2 separate regions of the Homo sapiens genome follow, and region 2 is linked to region 1. The links come from fine-mapping of genetic effects on gene expression. A gene starts in region 1. The other region holds a variant in brackets. All regions are shown on one strand. Distances are between the middles of the regions.

Evidence for each region.
Region 2: its variant is fine-mapped to the expression of PLCG1 in lymphoblastoid cells (TwinsUK, PIP 0.95).

What each region holds. Positions count from the first base shown.
Region 1 is chr20:41,135,709-41,138,612 of GRCh38, reverse strand. PLCG1 (phospholipase C gamma 1) reads right to left here and starts at 1,070. Exons shown (of 32, transcript NM_002660.3): 1 at 755-1,070. The coding sequence starts at 971. It overlaps LOC124904903 (translation initiation factor IF-2-like), which reads left to right and starts at 1,100. Exons shown (of 2, transcript XM_047440629.1): 1 at 1,100-2,904. The coding sequence starts at 1,274. The coding sequence ends at 1,855. PLCG1-AS1 (PLCG1 antisense RNA 1) reads left to right here and starts at 613. Exons shown (of 7, transcript NR_109889.1): 1 at 613-899; 2 at 2,802-2,904. RefSeq lists enhancers at 1-32, 181-280, 202-986, 1,771-2,555 and silencers at 431-690, 811-1,800.
Region 2 is chr20:41,294,415-41,297,318 of GRCh38, reverse strand. All of the region lies in intron 1 of ZHX3 (zinc fingers and homeoboxes 3), which reads left to right. Among named protein-coding and RNA genes, the nearest start is that of ZHX3, 22 kb to the left of the region's middle. The variant C/T (reference allele first, on the strand shown) is at 1,680.

The DNA of each region.
Region 1 (2,904 bases):
ATGGGGCCCATCTCCTGGGAACGTGCTTCCCAGGGCAAGGGGAGTCCCTGCCCTGGCATTGAGTGTCTGCCCACCCACATAGGCCTCCAAAACCCAGCTTTGGGACAAAAGTAGCAGAAAAAAAAAAAAAAAAATTCCAGCCACTGGCTTCTCTCAGGCTTCTCCAAACCAAACAAGACCACCTTCCTCCCTCTCCCCCAGAGGGAGATGAGTAGGCCCAGCTCTGCTCCAAGACCAGCCCTACCCAACATCTGCCTAAGTTCTACTTAGGGAACCCAAAGATTCCTTTGCAAATAAGAGCCCAGCCTGGGGGCCCGGAGAGTTTCACAGACTGCTCTTTCTGGATAAAGAGTGGGCGGGGACCGTCTGGTCAGGCCCCAGGTTCCCGTGCAGGGTGGGGGCCACTGCCTTAGCTCCCCTCGCCGACGCCGCCACCACTCCCAGGGTCTGGGGGGCCCGATGCCTGCACCGCAGGTCTCCAGCCCGCGAGGATTTTTAGGCCTCAGGGCAAAGCGCCTGGAACACTCCCCCCAGCTGGGGGAGGGGGGGTGTCCTGTCAGGTGACCGAGGACCCGGATGCCCCCCGCCCCCAGTGACCACCCGAGACGAAGCGGGGGCGGGGCCCGGAGGGAGTCTGGGAGGGCCCGAAAGTTTGCCCAAGTCGCTGGGGCGGCCGGCCGGGGTGCAAGCAGTCGGGCCGGGCTCCCACGACCCCCGCGCGGGGCGGGCCCAGGCAGGAAGTGGGCGCACTTACTGGCCCCCTCGATCTTGTCGGCGCCCCGGCTCCACGTGATCTGGCGCGTCTCCAGCTTGACCTGGAAGGTCTTCCGCTCGGGTCGCTGCGACTTCTTGGAGTAGAACAAAGTCATGACGGTGCCCACCTCGAGGCTGCGGCAGAGGTGCAGCACCTCGGCGTCCGAGGGCGCGCCGGGCCCGCAGCCGTTGGCGCAAGGGGACGCGGCGCCCGCCATGGCTCCGACGCTGGGGGCGGCGGCGGCACAGGCCAGGACCGCCCGGGAGCAAGCGCAACGGCGGCGGCTGAGGTTGGGGCTGAGGCTGAGGCGGCAGACGAGCGGGACCCGGCGGCGGCTCCTGCAGGCGGACACGGGGCGGGGCCTCAGCGCGGCGGGGCGGGGCTGCCCTGAGGCCCCACCCCGCTTCGGCGCCGGGAACAAAGGCGCCCGCGCACCCGTGGGGAGGACCCCCGCCCGTCGGCCCGCCGCGCCTGCGCCCCGCGACCCCCAGACAGGCCGCAGGCGGGGACGGAGGCGCGATGGCGGCGGGAGCGCGCGCCGTTCCCGGTCGACCCACCCAGCCCTCAGTCCCGCAGAGCTTTCTCACGCGGCCCCGGACACAGCCCGGCGGCCACGAGCGGCCCTGTCACGCACGGCAGCCCCGCCCACAGGCCGCAGGCCCGGCGGCCGGCGCGTCAGTCAGGCGTACTCGCACGGGCGGCCGCTACCCCGCGGTCCCGCACAGACGCAGCCCCCGCGTCCCGAACACCGCCCATGCAGCGACCGGGACGGGACGTGAGGGGATGGCGCGTCCTCCGGGAATGCCCGGCCAAACTCAGTTACCTGGGCGGGCTTCCCGGACAAGGGAGCCAGGACGGGCCGCCTCACACCGGCGGCGGCGGGTCCTCCGCGCGCCCTCTCCCGGGAGGGGCGGGGGCGGGGCTGCCTGCGGATTGGTCGCGGGCACTGATGGACAGCCGACATGTCCCGCCCCCCCGGCAGCGCGGGGCTGGTCCGCAGGCAGTTCTGGCGACGGCCAGACCCACGTCTGTCTGTTCCGCCCCTGCTGCCAGGGTGGCTTTCAGTGGTCCTCTCTTTCGGAGAGTTCCCCCCAAGCGTGAGCACCCCTTACAGGGGCGTTAGGTCCGCGGCCGCGCTGTCCAGTGGTCTGACCTGCAGCTCCCAGGGCCTTTGTGTCTGTCCCTCGCATGGGCCTCTGCACGCTCCGTCCCCACGCGACAGGACTCGAGTCCGATTCGGGGCTCCGACTCAGACCCTACCCCGCAGCGCCCTCCTGCAAATGCTCTCCTGAACTTTGGTTTTCCCCGCCTTGCTTTCTTCCTCCTCCTGTAGCCGCTGCCTCTCGATCTCAGAAGCTTCTCTTCCTCTGCACTCAGTGCTAGGCCAGATCCCAAGGCGACCTGACCTTTCCCCTGGCTTTGCCCAACAACACAGGCACCGGTGACTCCAAACCTGCATCTCCCCTACGTTCCAGGCCCCAGCATCCCACTGCATGTTCCACATCCCCCCCCCTTAGACAGCTCGCCTTCCCTCCCCAAACGATTCCTTCCACAGTCTTCACTTTCTCAGAACGCGGCGCTAAACTTCTCTAAGTTGGAAGGTCAAAAACCTTGCAGCTAACTTTGATTCCTCCCTTTGCCTCACCTCCAATCCATCAAGACCTTGTCACTCAGCCCACAAGCTGAAGGCCCCATCTCCTGTCACCCAGACTACTCACCTTGTTTGGTTTTGCCTGGATCTATCAGTTTGGTTTTGCCTGGATTTATCATGCTTTAAATCTTTAAAATGAAATTAAATCATGATCCCCTACATCCAGGCTAAAACCCTCCGTGAATTCCCATTGCACCTAAAATCCACACTCCCTGCTTGGCCTAGCAGGTTCTATATGACCTGCCCATCTCACCAGTTTCATCTCTCACAAGTGATCCTTCACTCTCCATTCTCCAGCCACAAGGCCTTTTTCTGGTTATGGAATATAATTCATACTCTTTGTCTTTCTGAAGCCATTCTTGAAACTCACCCCTGCAATCTATCTACCCTTGTCAGCACCGCCAAAATTGAGGACACCCACGGTCGCGGTGGAGCCTGTCTGACATGTTGAGCCAGGCAGTGGGTCGGCTGCCAGGCACAGCAGGACAACTTACTGCAT
Region 2 (2,904 bases), 160 kb before region 1:
GGTCTGAGGAGAATGGCTCAGCTGTGGGACCAACTCAGGCCTATTGGGGGAACACAGGCTAGCCTTGGGAGTTTTGAATCATCAATACTTGGGAGTATTTTAGAATTATCAGATCCTGCCTGCATGTGCATCTCAATCTGAAACCCCAGAACTGCCATTCTCCTTGTGTTGATTCAAGATATAAATGATTCTGGAATTCTATAGACAGAACTTTATCTGTCAGAGTCCCAACAGGAAAAGTTGGCATTCTCAACTTAGGATAATTCCAAGAGAGTTTACTTCAAGAGGTATGGGCAGGATGTAGAGAAAACCATAAGGGATAGTGCAGGAACCAGGGTTTATAGTGATGGTGGAGCTGTTACTACCCCTAGCTCCAAAGAGACAAATGGATGAAAATGGATGAAAGTAGTTATCAGGAGCCAGAAGAGATTGTCATTATCAAGTGTCAAGAGGCTACCTTGAGAGGAGCAGTGAATTTTGGTTGAGGGATGCATACGCCACAAGTAGAATGAATTCTCAACTTTATTCCCTCCCTCGCTTCTCCCTTCCTCCCCCGATCTCTTTCTGGGACTTAGCATTGGCTAAACCCAATCAGAGGTCAAGGTCATAGGGACCTGTTGATGTGATTCATAATGATTAGCCTGCCAAGACAGAGAGCAGGGTAGAGAAAGTTGGAGTGGGCATCTGGGAAATAGTAGACTTAAGGACCCCTGTAGTTTTAGAATGGGCAGAGCTCATGTGCACGTGTGTGGCAGAAGGTGGGGAAAAAAGGATGAGATGAGCATTTCTTGAGCATCACCATGTGCTAGGGACTTTCTTGTGACATCACCTTTTGGGGCAAGTAGTATTATTTCCATGTTATAGATGTGGAAAACTTGAGCTCAGATCTCTTGGCCCTAAGTCAACTCAGTCCTGGTGATCCCCGTGGTGACAGGTAGTATTTGGATATTTCTCTTATCTTACTTTCTCTGTGGCCCATTCCAGAAAGCCGCATTTCATACATAGTATTGCTGGGAGAACAGTGAGGACTGTAACAGAGCTGCCATGTATTTTTTTTTTTTTTTTTTTTTTTTTTTTTTTTTTTTTACTTTATGAACTTGAGGAGAAGGGAAAAGAAGAGGAAAAAAACTCAACTTGGCATGAGTGATGTTAAGTGAGATCAAATAAGGTGAAAAGCAAAATAGACTCCAGAAATTTAGTTTTGCTTTTACCCAAAGTTCATGGGCAGTTGCTGAACAAAGTCCTTTTTGCTTTCCACAAATGTTAGGCACTTTTAATAACATGAATCTCATTATCTTTACTTTTTGGTTGTTTATGAACTTAAATAGCATTATAAAGGACAACCAACTGAACGAGAAGATCAAACTGTGTGTGTCACCTTTTACTATTTCATTTCTTGCGAATGTACAAATTCTTACACTTGTAATGAGTTAGTTATTTTGGCTCCTGATAATTTTTTTTTTTTTTTGAGACGGAGTCTCGTTGTGTCGCCCAGGCTGGAGTGCAGTGGCGCAATCTCGGCTCACTGCAAGCTCCGCCTCCCGGGTTCAGGCCATTCTCCTGCCTCAGCCTCCTGAGTAGCTGGGACTACAGGTGCCCGCTACCACGCCTGGCTAACTTTTTTGTATTTTTAGTAGAGATGGGGTTTCACCATGTTAGCCAGGATGGTCTCGATCTCC[C/T]GCCTCGACCTCCCCAAAGTGCTGGGATTACAGGCGTGAGCCACCGCGCCTGGCTGGCTCCTGATAAATTTATTATAAAAGTATTGTACAGCCAACAGTGAAATAGAAAGTTTAAATTTTTTAAAAAGGGAATTCTAATACTCTAGAAAATTCTTGGATTTTCTTTTTTCCTACTTTTTGATCACATGCATGCATAATTTTATATGGCTAGAATTATACAAGTTTGTATTGTTCCCATGTCATTGTAAGCATTTTTCCATGTTGCTATGTAACCTGCATAATTATATATGATAGTTTCTCAGTTTACCTTAAATATTGTCTTATTATATATTTTTAATTTTTTATGCCTTGCTGCATTCTATGAAAAGGATTGCATTCTACTGAAGTGTTTTATGTATTATTTTTCTTTATAAATATTGTTTATTTGCATCTCAGGCAACTAGTTTCCCCACCCCTCCCTCTTTTGTTCTTCTGGAAGAAGAAATGGAATTATTTCTTTAGGATAATTTTGGGAGTGGAATGAGCAACTCTGAAGCTACATCAAGGAACTGGAAATATAGTAGTTTGAGGGATAGCTGAGAGAAGAGTACAATTGAAATAAGTCATTAATACAGAGTTTTTACTTAAAATATTAATGTGGGCTGGGCGCAGGGGCTCATGCCTATGTATAATCCCAGCGCTTTGGGAGGCCGAGGCGCATGGATCACTTGAGGTCAGGAGTTCAAGACCAGTCTGGCCAACATGTTGAAAACCTATCTCTACCAAAAAATATAAAAATTAGCCAGGTGTGATGGCACATGCGTATGGTCTGGCTGAGGTGGGAGGATCGCCTGAACCCAGGAGGCAGAGATTACAGTGAGCAGAGATTGTGTCACTGCACTCCAGCCTAGGCAACAGAGCAAGACTCCATCTCAAAAAATCAATCAATAAATAATGTGGATTTTTATTAAATCTTAGGTTTTAAAAACTATTGCTAAGGCTGGGCACAGTGGCTCATGCCTGTAATCCCAGCACTTTGGGAGGCTGAGGTGGATGGATCACTTGAGGTCAGGAGTTCGAGACTAGCCTGGCCAACATGTTGAAACTCCATCTCTACTAAAAATACAAAAATTACCCAGGTGTGGTGGGGGGGTGCCTGTAATCCCAGCTACTCGGGAGGCTGAGGCAGGAGAATCACTTGAACTCAGGAGGCAGGGGTTGCAGTTAGCCGAGATCATATCGCTGT